2 separate regions of the Homo sapiens genome follow, and region 2 is linked to region 1. The links come from fine-mapping of genetic effects on gene expression. A gene starts in region 1. The other region holds a variant in brackets. All regions are shown on one strand. Distances are from middle to middle.

The links. PIP is the estimated chance that this variant, and not a neighbour inherited with it, causes the effect.
Region 2: its variant is fine-mapped to the expression of IL36G in monocytes after LPS (Quach 2016, PIP 0.95).

The regions. Positions count from the first base shown.
Region 1 is chr2:112,972,177-112,981,661 of GRCh38, reverse strand. It overlaps IL36G (interleukin 36 gamma), which reads right to left and starts at 3,656. Exons shown (of 5, transcript NM_019618.4): 1 at 3,584-3,656; 2 at 2,969-3,042; 3 at 2,337-2,441; 4 at 1,514-1,653. The coding sequence starts at 3,023. It also overlaps the pseudogene HMGN2P23.
Region 2 is chr2:113,073,281-113,082,765 of GRCh38, reverse strand. It overlaps IL1F10 (interleukin 1 family member 10), which reads right to left. Exons shown (of 5, transcript NM_173161.3): 3 at 8,352-8,437; 4 at 7,916-8,043; 5 at 6,923-7,614. The coding sequence ends at 7,402. Among named protein-coding and RNA genes, the nearest start is that of IL1F10, 10 kb to the right of the region's middle. RefSeq lists an enhancer at 3,697-4,896. The variant T/A (reference allele first, on the strand shown) is at 4,178.

The DNA.
Region 1 (9,485 bases):
AGATATTGAAGTGAGATTCATAACTTCCAACGATGGATGAATAGGAATTCCAAAAGGAAAATAAGGGTGAGAATATACTTGAAGAAATGATGGCCAAGAATATATCAAAGGTTAAGAAAGACAGAGCAGTGTGAAGAAGAGGCAAGAACAGCCCCCAGACTGACCAAAACCCGCACAATGCTGCATCCTGCATCCAGTGCCTATATCCCGCTGGGGTGGCCACCACCATGCCCAGGAGAAAGGCTGAAGGGGATGCTGAAGGAGATAAGCCAAGGTGAAGGACGAACCACAGAGAAGGCCCGCAAAGTTGTCTGCTAAACCTGCTCCTCCAAATCCAGAGGCCAAGCCTAAAAATGCCCCTGCAAAGAAGGGAGAGAAGGTACCCAAAGGGAAAAAGGGAAAAGCTGATGCTGGCAAGGAGGGGAATAACTCTGCAGAAAATAGAGATGCCAAAACAGGGAAGGCACAGAAAGCTGAAGGTGCTGCAGATGCCAAGTGTAGTGTGTGCATTTTTGATAACTGTGTACTTCTGGTGACTGTACAGTTTGAAAAACTATTTTTTATCAAGTTTTATAAAAATGCAGAATTTTGTTTTACTTTTCTTTTTAAGCTATGTTGTTAGCACCCAGAACACTTCATTGTTGTTTTTAGGGGAAGGGGCATATGTCACTAATAGAATGTCTCCAAAGCTGGATCGATGTGGGGAAAACACCTTTCCCTTCTAGTTTTGAGAGAGTTCCTCTTGGCTCCCAGGAGGAGGGATTCTCTGACTTTGACACACATGGCCACCTTGGCAGAAAAGCCTTGTGGTATGGAAAATAAATTCATTTTTATGTCCTCTTCTCCCTTTCCATCTTTCAGCATAGATTTAACTCCTTTAAGCCAGACATCTGTTGGGACCTGGCCCTCAATCATTGGTTACCAGTATGTCAGGCACTCTGGACTTTCCAGTGATGCCACTGAGATGGCACCTGTCAAAAGAGCAGTGGTTCTGTTTCTAGATCGTGGATCTTCAGATAAATTCTACCATTTTCATTTCACTTCCTGAAAGTCAGGGTTGGCTTGTGAAAAGTTTAAACCACATGCTAAATGTGAAATGTCAACTCTCACTCTAAACTCTCCCTGTTCAGAGCATCAGATGAAGACTTCATTGAGTTTTATAGTGGCTTTCTGATTTTTGGTAGTCCTTTGAACAAGGGAGTTTGAAGTTTGCTGCATACTCTTAACAATTGTCTGCCCATATCCTGCCTGAAATACCATGAATGTTTATGGAAAGTATCTTTAATAAAGCTGGATGCAGTTTGGCTTGGAAAAAAAAAAAGCAAAACAAGGACCTTAACTACTGACAGCCAGAATAAAAAGAAAAGTGTATTGCATGCACATAACTTAAAAGAGGCTGGGAATAAATATGCTTAGGAAGATGAGACTATTTCTTTTTTAATTCTAAAATTAGGTATTCAACCAAACACTTCTAAAAGGAAAGGCTTTTTAAATATTTTTCTTAGCTACTCACTTTTAGCTGCAATGTGGGCTGTTCTCCAACCTTCTCACAATACAAACACATTTCTGGATTCTGGATTCCCAAATAAATGGGATCCCCTCTGCCTTGCTCAAGAGCCTCTGGATACTTGCATGTGATAACAGCAACAGTGACTGTAAAGATAAGAGGAGAGATGGTATCAGTTTCCTTTTGAAGTCAGAAAGATTATTTGATTTAGCAGGGCAGTATCCTCAAGTGGATCTGGAAGAGAGCTGAAGAGTGTAATCCCAACTAGACCCACCAAATGGCCAACCCCCATATTCATTCATTCATTCATTCATTCATACCATGTGCCAATCACTGCCCTAGTAAATGAGCAAACACAGAGAGCTAAGCAGACAACAGAGTATGCTCTTGAGATTCTCACGCCTCTGCTTGAGCACATGGAGATGGGGAGCTCCTACATCAAGCAGCCCCTCTGATTCTTGGAGAGCTTGGTCCCTTTTGCAAGTTTTTCCCAATGTGATGCTGAAACCTGCCTTTCTGTGGTATTCACCCATTTAGTCATTTTAGGACACCCTGAAGTCATGCAGAACAAGCTACTAGTCTTCCATAAGACAGGGCTTCAGATGACTGACAGCAGCTTTCCTATTCCCTTGGAGGCTCCTCCACCATCTCTGGCTTCTTCATCTTAGTGGAACCCAAAGTTCTCCCTGACTTCTCTTCCCAATTAGGTGTGAAATTCTCCCCACTCCTGGTGGGCCCCATTGTAAAGTCACACTTTTACAAAAGGCTGATGCCAGCTTCCCAGCCACAGCAGTGCAAACAGTGGGGAAGGCACAGGGTGACCACTCACCTGGGGTCACACTGTCACTTCGTGGAACTGCCACAAGGTTCTGACCCTGAAGGGTCCACACTTGCTGATTCAAATCATTAATAGTCCCAGTAATAGGTTTACACACTGATTTTGGGATAGAGAAAAAAATGAAGAAATATTATAATCAAGGCTGCTTTACTAGACCCAGGAGAAAAGTATCTAACCCAGGCCATTTTGTAAGGAAGGTGTGGGGTTTGCATCCCCAAACTGACAGCACTCACATCACCCATCAGCCTAGCCTTTCTTTCTAGTGAAGTTGTGAGCTCTGGTGAGGAAGGCAAGGGCTACCAAGGGAAGTCACTGGTTTAAGAGGGCAAACTATCAAGACAGAGGGCAATGAGCAGTCTCACAGAACCTGTGTGCCAAGGCCCAGCTACCCTCTTTTGTGCCTACTCTGTGCTTGGCCCCGGTGCTGGGGACTGGAGCTGGATCAGTGACTAAGCAATAGCTCCCACCCTCCAGAAGCCCAGGGCCCAGTGGTAGGTGGGCAGCACCAGGTGGGAAGGGCAGTGTACAGAGAGGAGCAGAGAAGGCTGGGGCTTCCACAGGAGATAGCGTGAGTGCAGAGGGCCTAAGCCTCCAGAGCCCCATCCCAACAGCATTTGATTCACTTGATTGATAGACGGCCCTTCCTCCACCATCAGCGTCTCCTGGAGTGCCTCTCATAGTGTGGTTGTCTCAGCACCTGTGAAAGCAGACATAGAACAGATGAACCACAAGAGATGTTTCCAAGACCTTCCAGGACACTAGCTCCACAGGCCCTCATTCTAGACAGGGAGCTGGGAAACCTGGCCTGACACGAAGCTCTGGGCAGAAGTTCTGAGCCACATCTGGGACGAAACTTGAAGGAAGCATCAGCAAAGGGAGAACAGGTAGAATTTTCCTCCACCTGGAGATCCAGATAGTATGGTAGTGTCTCCCCTAGGAGTTCGAAGGCCAGGCATAAAATTTGACCTTAAATAACCCACAGGCACCTGATGCCCTGACTCCTCTTCTCTGAAGCCTCCACCCCTTCATCGGCATTGTTTTTGCCTAGGAGCAGGGGAGGGTCCCATGCCAGGGCCACTCTGCCAGGATCCCAGCAACTCCCCAGTAAGAAGCAGCCACACATAGGACAAAGCACAGAGCCAGCCTGATGTGGCCCTTCCCTTCATTAAGCCCAAAGCACAGATGAGAGGAAAGGCTCCAGAGGGAGGGAGAAGAGGTTTTCCAGCTATTGACTATACCTGGCAAGAAAGGGTCTTTATCTACAGTCCAGGGGACTGAATCGTGGCTCCAGCAGCTTCCAAGGTCAGTGATGGGTTCTAATGGAGCCTGGATCATTTATCTGGATGAGCAGAGAAGGAGGCTCCAGCTTCCTGGGTGGGGCATGAGAAACGTATGACATGAAAGAAAACCAGCTCCTCCTACCAGAAGATCCTGTGAGGCTCGGAGGAAGAAATCACAGAATTAGCACAAGTATCACCTGTCCGGGCTCGCTGAGAAATAAGTGTTGAGCCAATCCGCACAAAATCAACCACAAGGAAATGAGGTTGATGACAGATCCTAGGTTTCTCATAAAGGGGAAACTAAGGGAATTTCCCAGAGTTCAGCTCTCCTGTCATGTCATTCTAGAGCTAGAACTGGAAATGCCAGGCACTCTCATGTCAGGGACTCCATCTCCTGGGACTGGGAGCCTTGCCCTCTGCAGTCAGGCTAAAGGCATCCTGTAAGAGCAAAATTAGCCACACGTCTCAGGCAAGGTCCCTGTGGCATTTCTCAACTACCCCACCTAAGGCCACACCTGAATGGAAAGCCAGGCAGTAGAGCTCCCCTACCTAACACTCTTTCAGCTCCATCCACATGGGGAGCCACAGGGACTATGCAGACTGGTCTTTTAACTGAGGCAATCCTAGTTTCAGGTACCCTCAAAATGCAGTGGACTCCAGAACTGCCTAAGGAAGTAAAGAGGTGGGCAGCGATTTCTCCCAAATCTGAGCCCCAGATGCCAGCTTATCCCCCACCCTCTGCCCTAGGTTCCTGATCAGTGGTAATAGTTATTTTTATATCTTGTTTATACACCCCATCCTATCTGCTGTAGCCAAGCCTAAAAATTTACTGAGGTATAAGTTAACTACTAGAGTGAAGTGAGTTTTAGGAGACAGACTTGAAGCACTAACAGCTTCAGGTTTACCCATCTATAAGGAAGAAAAGCACAAAGAATGAGACAGAACCTTCCAGATAAGCTCATCCATGAGCCCCTCTTCCCAGCCCTGCAAAGAGTCTCCTGACTCAACGTCTCTTACTTTTCACCCTAATCTCCTTTCTGGCCTTGGAAGAACACAGTCCTTTCCTGCCATGGCCCCAATTCTATCACTTTTGGCTTCCAGTGTTTCTGTGACCCTAGGAAAGAGTGTGGTAATGCCAGGTGCACTTTTGTTCAAAGTCAACCTGAGCCAGTGCCACCTCACTTGAGTCTCCATTGCCCTGTTAAAAATCCCCTCCATTACACATCAGTCAACATAACTCCTTTCTTGGGATGTTCACCACAAAACAGCATCTAAAATTCCCATCATTTGACCCCCCAAATCCCTTAAGCCTGAATTTCCAACTGGGATCCCTCTGAAAGCAGAATCCATGCTAGGAATTGCAAACAAAGGGAATTGAATAAAAGGAACTAGATACACGTGTGTTGGAAAGCCAAAGAAGATTAAGGGATTGCTGTGGTATCTCAGATAGTAACAACTACAGGAAGGAAACAAAAGGGAACAAAAGAACCTAGGTCTCAAAGGAGCGCTTTTGTAGGACTTATCCCCAGATATGAGTCGGAGGTGAGGCGTTCTCTGCCAAATTGATGCTCAGACCTCTGAAAAGAGAGTACAGTCTGGTCAATGCTTGGAGCATGAAGGTGGAGGGGAGGGGTCAAGAAGAGGATGCTCAGAGGACTCACAGGACACAGCTCTAACAGCTGAATTTTCTTTGGTTCAAAAGCCTGTGGGTACAGCTAGAACTTCCCACGCCCAGATGAAGGTTGCAAAAACTATAAAAGAGGGTGACATGTGTCCTCTTCAGCCTCCGCCCTCATTCCACTTGGTCCTGACCCTTCAATAGATTCCAAGCACTCAGAGAATCCAGCCCTTCCTAGAATTCCCAGCACTCAGCATCCATCCTGAAGTCCCTAGTTTAACTGTTAGTGTGAATAAGTATCAGAGAAATTGGAGGGAGTAGGAGTGATGATGATAAAAGGGGAGAACTGAATCACTGGGGTTGATCAGTAAAGAGCAGAGATCACATCTACTGAAGAAATGGCCCCGAACGTTTATCTTAAAGTGGAAGGGATGGATGTTATAATTACATGATACCCTGGCTGTACTTGAGAAAACCATCAATATTGATTCTGGTTATAAAAAGTAAAGAACATAGCGTTGCTATATTTTATTTATTACCATTGATTGTTTTATTTATTATCAACGATTTATTATCATGGAGAACAATGACAATGATGCTTATCATTAAGTGTGGCTTGAATTTAATTACCATAAGTACTGACAAGGCCAAATTCCCTAGATATGAAAATGATTTTAAGAAAACACTTAGTCCAGATTCTAATTTCCAAGCTCTATGACACTGTCAATCTACATTCATTTGGTAATAAGCCCTGCTACTAGTTTGTTCACTTAACATGCTCATTACCTTATTAAGTTGAGGGAATATCAATGAAATGCAGGTAGGGTAAGAGAACTTGATTACTGACCACCACTACAATCTCTAGAATCTCTACAACACCTTTTTCATGAAACCAGGCACACAATCATAACAAAGCAGAGGGAGCCATGGAGCAGTAAAGGTTATTCAGCCCCCACCATTGCCAACCATAAAAAAAATCACCTTAGTAGTAAAATTAAACTTAGAATCTATAACTCCGGACTCCAAATGCAGAGCTCTCTGCTGGAGTCATAGGTCCTCCTTGGGGCCCCCAAAGAGGACCAAAGCCATGTGGCCTATTACCTATCAAGGGCTATCTACAAGCAGGCTGGCAACCTGGCCTGAAGATTGCCACTGGAAAGAAGTTGGCATTCATCTCGCTTAAATTGGTGGGGCAACATGGTGTGTACCATGAACCACAGAGACCAGTGTGGGGCCATTTGTACTCTAGTGGACTTGGGAAAATGCCAAGGAAGCTCTTGGCATAGGCTCTGTGGTAAAGCCTTTACCCAACGTAGATGGAATGATGTGCATGGACATGGCCGAAAGCCTCTGCTCCTCCACATAGCCCAAGCCCATTATCAAAGACTTGCTTCCTATGAGCTGATCCATTACATCTTCCTGAAGCTGGTTTCTATGAAACCCCAGACTTTGGCACATAGGCCAACACGCTATTTAAATGAAGGACAGAGTAACAAAAATAACCCCAAAGCTACACATCAAAATGGCAGTAATAAATAGAAACATTAAAAGAGTTAAGACTAAAGAACCAAACCATATAGGACTATTGTAAAGGCATATTTCTCTAAATTTAAAACAGTTATTGGTTAAATTGTCATTTATGTGCAACAACAACAAAGAACTAAAGCAATAAAAAGCCTTAATTAGACAGCACATAGTGCAACTCCTGAGAAAGGGGTCCAGGTTAAATGCCTAGAGTTTGAAATTCCTAGACAAAGAGCCAAATGACAGAGAACCCTTAGCCTTCTTTGCCCCAAATCACACAAAGTGCAAAATCCATATAAAAAAAAAAAGATGATAAATTGAATATCACCCAAATTTTAGAATTTTGGACAAAACACATCATGAAATGAATTTAAAAAGACAGACTACCCAAGATAAAATATTTGTAACACATCTAACAAATAATTAATATCCAAAGTTTATAAATAATTCTTACTAAGCAGCAGGAAAAGTGCAAATAATTCCATAGAAAAATGAGCAATTGACGTAAAAAGTATTTCACTGAGTAGAAAATATAAATGTCCAATAAATATAAGTAATTATAGTAAACCACACTGGTAATTAGCAAGATGCAAATCAAAGCAATACTGAGATTCAGTTTCCACCCATTAGGAAGGCACAGATTAAAAAGATAGTAGGCAATAGTGTGAGACAATAGATTCACTCACCACATGGATGGCCGTGTGAATCATTGCAGACTTTTTGGAAAGCAATTTTGTAGAGGCTATTAAAAATGATAATGTGTTTACGCTTGGCCCCATATGTGTACTTATAAGAGTCTATCAATTTAAGTTATTTTCAGCTTCGAAACCTGAAAAATCCTATTCAAGTGGCTAAAACAATAAAAATATTTACTAGGTTACATAATTGGAAGTCTAGGATTATTAATTATCAGAGTTGCTGACCTGATAGTTGTATAAGGTGAGCAAGGACCAGTATTTTTAAAAATTCTCTCTGGTCTTAAGTTTAATTCATAACTTAAGGCCAGGTTTCTCCAAGGCCATTAGAGGGCTGCCTGTGTCAATCAGAACTGTATGCTCAGTCATTCACATCTTGTAGAAAAAAGGAATATCTCCCCTACAACTATCAAAGACTTTCTAGTCTATTTGGGCCAACTTGGGAGCCATGCTGTGTCAATTGGGGTGCTAACAAAAAAACAGATGACATGTTCAAATTTGGCAATTGGAGGTAAATGTCATGAAGGAGTTATTTATAAAGATATGGGTAGAGTACAGGGAAATCCCAAGGCATAGTACAGAAACTCAGGCTACTAAAAGTGGGGTATACCTCTGGCCGCCCCTAGGCCTGAAAGGACAAGAGGAGGTTACTAGAACGCAGAGAGAGAAAGAACTTTGTGAACAAGGCCACCTAATAGGAGCTGTGACCTTCATCAAGAAAAATAGCCTGCAGTGACCCCATGGGAAAGGAACCAGGGAATACAGTCATGCATGGCTTAATGACGTTTCACAGTGCAAACATCACAGAGTGTAGGCACAGCCTACCACACACCTAGGCTATATTGTACAGCCTATTGCTCCTGTACAAACCTGTACAGCATGATACTATACAGTGAAATTGCTGACCCCTCAAAGTGATAAACATATGCATCTGAGGGGATAATGTTACATATACCTGCTGTGGTCAGGCACTCCCAAGACTGGACAAGAAAGCAAAGCCAAGGGCTGCTGAGATCATGGCTATGAACACTCCTGTGCAGGGCCATAAAAACCACAAAGAAACTGGCCATGGCGAGATGCCTGTAGAAGCTCTGCTCATGAGAACTCTGAGTCCTTTTTTCCATCTGGCATCGCCACCAGGAGCCCTACCGGGAAAAGAGCAATGAGAACCACCTCTCTCCAACCCCCTGCAAAATATATTTGCATGATTGCTAGTGTATGAAAGCCTTGCAATAAGCCATGAATTCATGAGCATCTAATTGGCCATTGAGTCACTGTGAAACCTCTTTCCCTCACCCCCACTCCCATTCAAGTTAGCACAAGTACGCTGATTTTAACCCGACATGACATTCCCATTCTCTAAGTTCCTTTCACTACACCCCCTTGGCCAAACCCAGAAGCCAAGGGCAACTAGAAGCCAGAAGGCAAGGAAGCCCACAGATGCAGGTCAGCCTCCTGGGCAGACAGCCAGGAGAGAAGCATGGAGGGTGGATTTGGAAAGGTAATTGGAAGTTATCCAGCATAGTCCATGCCTCTTGCCCCTCAGGACCATATTCTTCTTTCTTGGGTAAGACATTTGTGTTCCCTCTCACAGGTGAAATTCTGAATCATCACATTAGGTCAATGTAGTCATACTCCTATCTGAAACTTTTAAAAGCCACCCCCAGTGTTACTCATGTAAGGTGGTTAGAGAAAAAGGCAGGGATAGGGAGCAAACAGTTAAATAGAACATCGAGACTCCTTGATTCTGTAGTTACTCACCAAAGCCAAGTTTGGTAATCATAGCTACCTTCTTCTACCATCCATCCCATGTTCCGCTTACATTTGCCAGCACCTCTGCTGGATGCTGTTCTTCACCTTACAGTTGAGTCAAGCCTCCATTTCTGTGCAATCCAGGTCCTCAGTGCTCTTCTTTATTGGGTGCTTCCATTTTCCATTGACTGAAACTACCAGACATGAAAGAAGCAAGAGATTCCCTGGAGTAACAAGACATGTTCCGGGGGAACTCCTGGGCTCCAGACAT
Region 2 (9,485 bases), 100 kb before region 1:
TGCCCAACATTGAATTCAGGGCTTGGGAGGGCATGAAGGAATGAGGAGTAGTGTGTGAACCTGAGAAGGCTAGGAAGTCAAACCTTACACATAGCCCCTGGCACAGAAGCTAAGCCTTAAGCCTGTCCTTGCTTCTCCCAGTTTACTTGCCACAGACTGGGACTCCAGCTGGGCTTCACCTTCCTCTGGAAGACATTCCAAGGGCTGACCCTCTCCCTTGGGTTCCTAGTTAGCATTAAAACCACAGAGCAAGATGAAGAAGATTTGAGAGAGCTTGGCTAAGGCTGGCTTTCTCATCTTCCTTAGGAGCACCAAATCTTGGACCCCATTCAATTCTGTATGCCCCCTGCCCAGTTCTGCACTTGAACATTGCAGGTGGTCAGTAACATTTGATGAAAGAATGAATGAATGAATTGCTGGCTACACAGCCATGTCAGAGTTTCTCATGGAGGCAGCATAGCATGATGGTCAGGAGTGCACATTCACGAATCAGTCAGCCTGTGCTTTACCCCCTCCTCTTCCATTTGTTTACAGTGACTTTGGGCACAGATTCTTTGCAGATCTTCCCCTTCAGAGGAAGAATCCATTTCTCTACCCACGTCTCCATAAATCAGGGCTGGCCTTGGGACTTGCTTAGACCAACAGGCTATGCTAGGAGTGAATAACATGAGGCAGGTTATGACAAAGTGCTTCTGACATTGGCTGGGAGCCCCAGTATCCCATCCACCCTCACCAGCTCCACTTCTGGGGACTAGACCCTTTCTCCACTACTCCCACCCACTGCCACAGTCCTTCCTGACAAATGTGAGTTTTGGACCCTAGGCCTCAAGAGCATTTGCAGCTTCTACCTTTCCCTTTTTGAGAAGCAACACTAAGATAGCCATGTAAGAAAGTCATTCCAGTTTACTGGAGGATGGGAGGACACATGAATAGCCAAGGCCCCCAACCAACAGCCAGCACCAACAGCCAGACATGGGAGAGACTATCTTGGACTTTCCAGCTGAGTTGAGCCTCCAGCTGAGTGCAACAGAGCCCTGGCAAGATCAGCAGAGGAACCACCTAGTCAACTCACAGAATCAGAAGGAATAATGAATCACTGATGTTTTAAATCACTGCATTGTGGGTTGGTTCGTTACTCAGCAATAGATAACTGAGACACCATGCAAAGTGATTCAGATATTGACTGGAAACCCTGATATCCTGTCCACCCCTCACCAGCCCTCCTTCTGGAGACTAGACCCTCTTCCCACTACTCCCACCTGATGCCACAGTCTTTCCTAATAAATCTGGACAGGGGCCCTGGTGCTAGTCTCTGCAGAGCATGACCTCTAAGTAGGACCCTTTTGGGAATCCTATTTGAGTTCTTTTCTTCATTCAGCAAATGTTGCTGAGTGCTTGACACGTCATAAATGCTTGTACATGCTGGTAATACATAAACAAGGCAAAAAGAAAATCCTCTGCCCGTGGATCTTGCATTCTAGTGGAGGATAAAGGAAAAAAAGTACAGTAAATAAAAAATAAATTATAGAGTGTATTAGAATGTGATAGTACCATAGGTAATCTAAGGGTGCTGAGATTTGAGGGGGTGCATATTGCAGTTTTCACGGGGGTAACCAGCGTAGGCCTCACTGAGGAAACAAGCCAGGCAGGTAATTGGGGAACAAGTGTTCAAAACACAAGGCTACTGCTGGAGCTCTGGAGTAGCATCGTGCCTAGAGTGTGTCTTTGGAGAATTGTGAGGAGACCAGTGTCTGAAGCAGAGGGTGTGAACAGGGAGAGGCATGTGGAAGAAGGTATCAAAAATAACACATTTTCTCACATAAACCTATGAGCACTCATTGGAATGTGTGCACTGGAACCAGTCTACAAAATGCATAACTAGCTGATACCTACGTCTGCTGTCCTTTATGCAGACAAACTTACATAACCAGTGCTATTTTTTGTATCATGGGTCCTGTGACTATGGACCTTCAGAAAATGTCTGTGAGAAATATTCCAGTATGGAAGAGCCTCTGCTAGAACTCAAGGCTCCCAGCATCCTTTGTCACCCAATTCTGTGACCAGAGCCTGGGCAAGAACATCCAAGGGAATTGGAGGGAATGAGTGTACAGGAGACAGATTCACAGCAACGTCTCTGTCATGGGGAGAAGGGATCAAGCATTCGTGTGATGCTCCTTCACATAGGTGGGAAAAATGTCGAAATGAGTATGTGTCTAATATCTACCTTCCCTCCTAAGCTCCAAACTCCTAGAGAGCAGGGGCTGTGTCCCTCGTGACAAGGGGGAGCTAACAAAAATTGTTACCCAACAGAATGGACACCCGGACTTCCTGAAGTCATCACAGGATCCAGTTCTACTCTCACGCATTGCGTGGAAGGATGCATCTACTGTAAGTGAGGCGGGGATTTGAGGCACAAGGGCTGACACACAGTAGCTGCTAAGTATTTGAAGAATTAAATGTTAGAGCTCATTCAGAACCTAGCCCCAAAAAGGCAGCGCCAACATTGATCTCTGTCGCCATCTTTAGCCCAAAGGCCACACTGCAGGCTCCCAGCCTCAGAAATGGGCAGGGGGATCAAGCCTCTAGATAGCGTGGAGTCTGTGCCTTTGAGGGCGGAGATTGGAATCTGCTCTGGGGATAGACTGTGTTTTGGTAGAATTCTGGTGAACCCTTTTAGTTATGCAAATGTAAAATCCAACCAGAAATAAGGTCAGGTAAACCGAATGCCAGTGCTTCAGTCCAAGATGTTAACTTTACTGTTTATATTCATTACACTTGTTTCTGTCAAGTTCATTTATGAAGTAGCTGTATATTTTAGAGAATTATATCAAGGAAAAGTTAGTATCCATTAAAGTTGTCTGCATTTTCCTTCACTTTTACTGTTTCCTCCTTAAATCTGAGTTTAGATTTCCCTAGAACTGACATGAGTTGTGTGTCCTGCGGAGTTTTCTGTACAATGTTTTGAGCCGGTATTCCTAGGGGCTATTGTGATGCGAGAGGTGGGCCTAGGATCGCGAGATGAAAATTTGGGTCAAAGGGAAGAGTGACTAGATTCTGAATCCTGGTGGAATGACTTAGGAAACACAGGTTATAGGAGACCCTGGGTTCATCGCCCTCTTGTGTGAAGTTGTTCCATAGCTTCTTGGAACAAAGACTAGGCCCCCTGTGAATCAACTGCTGCCTACATCTGGAGTCTCTTGTAAGCACGTATGCACACACAGCACACACATACACATACATGGACACGTCATGCACATACAGACACACACATTCACCCTCCCCACCCACCCTGCTCCTGGTGCTACCTGACCGAAAGCTGGCCACACTGTGTTTAATTGCCTGTTTGCTCTCTCTCTGGACCTACCAGTTCATTCTGAGATGTAAATAGTGGATAAGACCTAAAGTGTACCTCTCCCTAGAATTCACATAATAATAACCCTCTAGCCTGGTTAGGTTTTGGAGTGAAGACTTTGGTGTGGTTTCTAGGGAGGAGAAGGAATTTAAGGAATGAGCCTTGGGGCGTGGGAGAAGAATACTCTTGGCATCGCTGAACTGCACCTGTCAGAAATTGCCTCCATTCCTTACTTTTAAACCCTAGTGCCAGAAAGTCCCATCACTATTTCTACCACAGTCCTGCAGAATTTGATTCTAAGTGCTATTTGGAGTGTCTTGCAGTCAATAAATATGAGCTTTTATTCACAAGGTCTGGTTTTCCCATCTGCACTATGTGTCCTTCAGTCATAGAGACATGTCTTCTAAGTCTTTATGTCCTCTTCCTCTTCTGTGCACTGTTAGAGAATTGGCATATTTTACATGTGAAAATTTTTTTTAGTTATATAGAGAACATGATTCAACTTGGAACAGCACCACTAGTAAGTAGGAGGAGGCCTGCATTTGCCTGGGTGGTCCATGGGCACAGTTCACAAGGGAAGGGCCAGCAGAAATGAGTTACCATGTGTTAAAATAATTAATTGGGAAGGTATTAGGCTGAGATGACTCCAGCGTGTTGGGTTCCTGCCTAAGTAAACTAAAACCCAACCCAGAGTGAATGGTCATTGACTAAGAAAACGAAACTTAAGCTTAGCCAATCAGGAACCGCCGACTAACCTGCAACTAAGGATTTTCCACTTAACCAATGAATTTTTTTCTTCCTTTTGCTTCCTGAACAACTTATAAA[T/A]GGTTTTCCGGTAGCCCCTGGGTGGAGCCCTGAATCACTTGCAATTTGGCACCTTGTGATTCATGAATCATTCTCTGCTCAAATAAACTCCTTAAAATTTTAATATGCCAAAGTTTGTCTTTCAACACATGCATGAAGGTGATGAACTGGTCAGGGAAGATGAAGCAGGGGTCAGGCTGACTGTGAAATCACAGCATGGAAGCTGACCCCGGGGCAGTGCTAAACAGAAGTCAGGGAGGGAGAAGGGGAGGGAGGGGGTGGCTGAGAAGAGCTGAGGACCCAGTAGCATCTGTGTTGGCCCAGTGCTGATCTGAGGGGCCCAGGATTAAAATCTGGGTCCTGCCTGAAATACCTGGATGATTCCTTGGGGCCTCCCAGATAAAAACTCCTTCACAAGGCATTAGCAATCAGGAGCCACCCATCTTCTCATGTGAATTTGCAGCCACTCCTCAGTCCAAGCCCTGGGTCCCAGCCACATTGATGACTCACCTCAGATGTGCTGGGAGCTCTTCTCCATCATCACACCTTCCTGAGCAGTTTTTCTGCCTGGGATGCCCATCCCTGCGTTCTCTGCCTGGAAAACACCTGCTTTTTCTCTGAGGCCCAGATTATATGCTCTTTCTTCTGTGAAGCCCTGCCCAGCCCTCCCTGCCAGCTCCACCTCTAGGCTACAATGGTGTCTCTACCTGGTACCATAGCTCTTCTCACACAGTATGATGAATGTCCCATAAGAACCAAGTGATTGGCCAGATGTAGCAGCTCACACCTGTAATCCCAACACTTTGGGTGGCTGAGGTGGGAAGATCACCTGAGCCCAGGAGTTCAAGACCAGCCTGGGCAACATGACGAGAGCCAGTCTCTACAAAAAATTAAAAAAAACCTAGCTGGGCATGGTGATGCATGCCTGTGGTCCCAGCTACTCAAGAGGCTGAGGCAGAGAATGGCTTGATCCAGGAGGTCAAGGCTGCAGTGAGCCATGATTGCACCACTGTACTCCAGCCTGGGTGATAGAGCAAGACCCTGTCCTGAGGAGGAGGAGGAGGAGGAGGAGAAGGAGGAGGAGGAGGAGAAGGAGAAGAAGGAGGAGGAGGAGGAAGAAGAAGAGGAGGAAGAGGAGGAGGAGAGGAGGAAGAAGAGGAAGAAGAAGAAGAGGAAGAAGAAGAAGAAGAAGGGGAGGAGGAGGAGGAGGAATAGGAATCAAGTGTGATTATCCATTAACTTGTTTAAGATTTTGCATTTACTCAGCCTCTTCTGCATTTACCAGCAGCTGTTCTGGCCACAGCTGACATAAAATTGAGTCCCACCATGTAAACACATAGTTATAATGGGCCAGCCAGGTGATCAATTTCCCGGGGCACATACAGGCTGTGGAGAGGCAGCTCAGAGAAAGAACCTAAACATTATCAGAGCCTATCGTGTAGCTCCCGTCACACTTAATACTTGGAAGCCTGTACTTTGCCTTCAAGGCCACACATGACCCAACCCTGCTGGTCTTGCTCACTGCCTACTCCTCCCTTGCTCTCCAGGCTCCAGCCCCCACCCCAGCCTTCTACTGTTACTTGAACATACCAGCTCCTTTCTGTCTCAGGGCCAACACATTTGCTACTCTTTTGCCTTGATTATTTCTAGTCACAGTTCCTTCCTGTCCATAACCTCAGTGCAGATGTTACCTCTTCAAAAAAGTAAAAAAACAACAACAACAACAAAAAAAAAAAACCTCCCCTGACCCCCCCATCTAATATTTCCATTGAATACCTGCTGCCCTCACCTTCTAATCATGAAAAGTGCCCTTTCTGTTTTCTTGTTTGTTTATTTGCTTGTTTAGTGTTTCTCCCTTTCAATTATCAGCTACAAGGAAGTTTGGTTTTATTCACCATTCTATCCTCAGCTCCTTAAGTGGAATAAAAATTTGCAAAATGGCATTGAGGTCAGCTGCACCAAGTTTTATCTTGAGCTCCAACACTGATAGCCCATATGACCTTCAGCAAGTTATTTCACTTCTCTTAGTCCAGTTTCCTCATCTGTCAAATGGAGGTGAAAATGCTTGCCTTGAAGAGTCATTCTGAGGATGACAACAGAATGTTCTTAAAATTGCTGCCCCATGGTTGGAACTCAGAACACGCTAGGTGAATGTTAAGTAGTTATACAACAGAGGGACAGCGCCAGCAGCCTGTGCCTTCTCTGAGTCCTGATACCATGGGCTTTCTGCTCTAGCTTGATCCCAGTCAAATATTTTCCATGAAACAGAGAAGCGTTTGAGCTCTGAGGATGAGTATGAATTCCAATTGCAAACTCTCAGCTGAATTCCAGCCCTGTACTCCCAGCTATATCAAATCACCTCAACTTAGAGACTCCACTGTAACCTTAAACTCAACACATCCAGGACACACATATTGTCTGGCCCTTGCTACTACTTAAGCACCTGGCAGATAGCGGACTGTACCAACAGTCAACCACGGAATTGTGGATTCACTGTGAAGTATCTGGTAGAAAATCACAAGACTTGAGCTAGAATTTAAGTTGTAAGCAGCCCAGGGCTTTGTCCCTGTGCAGAGGACACTGAGTTCTGCCTGGGGCTTCTTGGTTGTTTCTAGAGGCTCCATAGCAGATGGACTGGAGGAGAAGCTGCAGGTAGCCTTCTAAGAACTCACCAAGTCTCTTGCATCAAACACTGGACACAGGGTCGAATAAGGCTCTGTAGTAGTTTTCTATGGCTGCTATAGCAAGTTACCACAAACTTAGAGGTTTACAATAACACAAGTTTATTATTTTATAGTTGTGGAGGTCAGAAGTCTGAAATGGGTGTCACTGAGCTGAAATCCATGTGTCAAGAGCTGTGTTCCTTCCGGAGACTCTAGAGGAGAATCCGTTCCCTTGGCTTTTCCACCTTCTAAAAACACCTGCATTTGTTGGCTCAAGGCCCCTCACTCCATCTTCAAAATTAGAAGCATGGTATCTTCCATTCTCTCTCTGACTCTCCCTTCCTGCCTCCTTCTTGTGATTAAACTGAGCCCACAAGGATAACCCAGGATTGTCTCCTCATTTCAAGATCCTTAACATAATCACATTTGCAAAACCTCTTTGGACATGTATGGTAACATATGCACAGATCTTGGGATTAGGATGTGGACATATTTCGGGGGACATTATTCTGCCTACCATAGACCCTGAGCAGGATGAGCTTGGTTTGGGGGCACAAGGCTAAAACGCAGTTTCCTGTCTCCCTACCAGCTCTGTTCAAAGTAAAACTTGGTACGGGCTGAGGGCTCACTCTCCTTGGTGAGCTGTACTGGCTGCTGGGGCTCTGCCGGGCCACACAGGAACCAGCCAGGCCAGGCAGCAGCCTCAAGCCTGAAGGCGGAGCCTGAGCTGCTCTGGAAGAAGGTGAAGCGTGTGGCCTCTTCACCACCTTTGTACAGTTCCTCAATGTTCACATCCTGTGGGGGCAAGGTGGATGGCTGCAGAATGAGAGTGCTGATGGAGGTGTTAGCCCTGGAGGCCTCTGGGGCTTGGCCAAAAAAGGACCTGACAGGGCTGGTTTTTACCCAAGGGACTGCCTTCTGCAGATTCTAGAGGGCAAGGGTCTTGGTGCTAGGTGCAGAGGGAGATGGTGGAAACCTGAGGAAGTAGGACATGTGGACCTGGCTGGGAATCCACAGATAGGCACAAAGATGCCAGAGCATCCCAGGGGTCAGGCCAGGTCTGCAGTGTCCCCTAGAATGGGGAGAGGCCTCTCACCTCCAGCTGTAGGGAAGGCCCCTCTTCTGTCTCCACACATGCCAGGCAGCGGCTCCCTCCCTGGATCCCCAGGAAAATGGGGACCTTGGTGCGGGCCAAGCCTCTGTTAGGAAGTATGCAGATCTTCTCTAGGAGGGAAGAGAGAGAAGAGTCAAGGGACAAGGGAACCCCATGTTGCAGGCTCTTGGCAGGTAAAGGCTCAGGCAGGAAGGAACTGGACATGGGCACACCTGGCCTGGCCCTGCATGCAGACTGGACGGTGAGCCAGGACTTCTGCAGGAGTCATGTCCCCTCGCTAGGAGAGGCCACAGCTGCTCTCTGGCCCTTCTCACTGTCACTGGGGGCAGCTGCTGACCCTCTGCTGGGGAGGAAAGGGAAGAAGAGAAGGGAGGGCCTATGGCAGATGGAGCATGGGGTGGAGGCCCCAGAAGCTCACCTGCACAGCAGTTGTCTGCAACAGGATCTCCCACCAGCAGCTGGCCATCTCTTGTGTATAGAGCCTTCTGGTCTGCATATTTAATTCTGAAACAGTATGACAGTGCTGATGGCCCATTCCCTTTATGCACCACTGGCCCCCAAGCCCTTCCACTTCCATGCTCTGAATCACCACCTTGAGCATTTGGGCGATTTTCTCTCCTTCACAGGTGGTAAGAGGGGAATGGTCACTCCCAAGAGCAGGTAAAGACCAGGCCAGCCTTAAAGCAAGGAAGGTCTCCTGTGTTCTTGCTTTTCAGAGGCTGTGCTTCCTGCCTTCTCATGGCTTGGGGAGGCCTTCAGAGGAGAACGGAGAGCCAATGCCCTCTGACAGAGGGGTAAAGAAAATGTTCCTGGCTTCCTGAGAAATTTCTTAGTGAGGCTCAGATGACTTTGGGATACAGTGGACCTTATCTTAAATTTTTTGGGCCTGCCCTAATTGTTTATAAATGTTTATTCTCTTTAGTACAGAGATTGAGTGTATACTGAAGTGTGATTTGCTTTTCAGATATTTTAAAGGCTTCAAAGTCATGCAGGGTATTAGCTCAGTCACCTAGTTGGTTTCAAAGATGCCTGTCAGCTGCTGTCAGGGCTGGAGAGCTCTCATTAACCTTTTAGGGCAGAACCTCTGGACAAATTCCACCACCTCCAGGGGATTTTTCTATCTCAATAACAGCTAACGATAATACCCTTAGCTAATGACTGTACATATTTAAAGCAGGTTCACTTGTACAATAAAAATAAACTTCCGGAAAGATCCTGGGCGTGTTATCTGGCATTCCCCTTGCCACCTTGACAACCCAGATGTGACAACTCACATGCCAGCAGCATTCTATTTGGAGACCAGAACCCAGATTAGATGCCCTGAAGTGCTGACATCTGCTTTGTCATTTATGTGCTTCCTATGTATGTGTCTTGCTTCCCAGCCAGGCTGTCACCTCCTTGAGACCAGGACTGCTCCCCACCCACCTTGTCCAGGACACAGCCCTGGACATTACAGGGTCCATGGGAGGGGCAGAGGAAATGCATCCCAGAGTCCTCTTTGATTTTTCTTATGCCTCACCTCCTTCCTGAAAGGAGCTTATGACAAAATCAC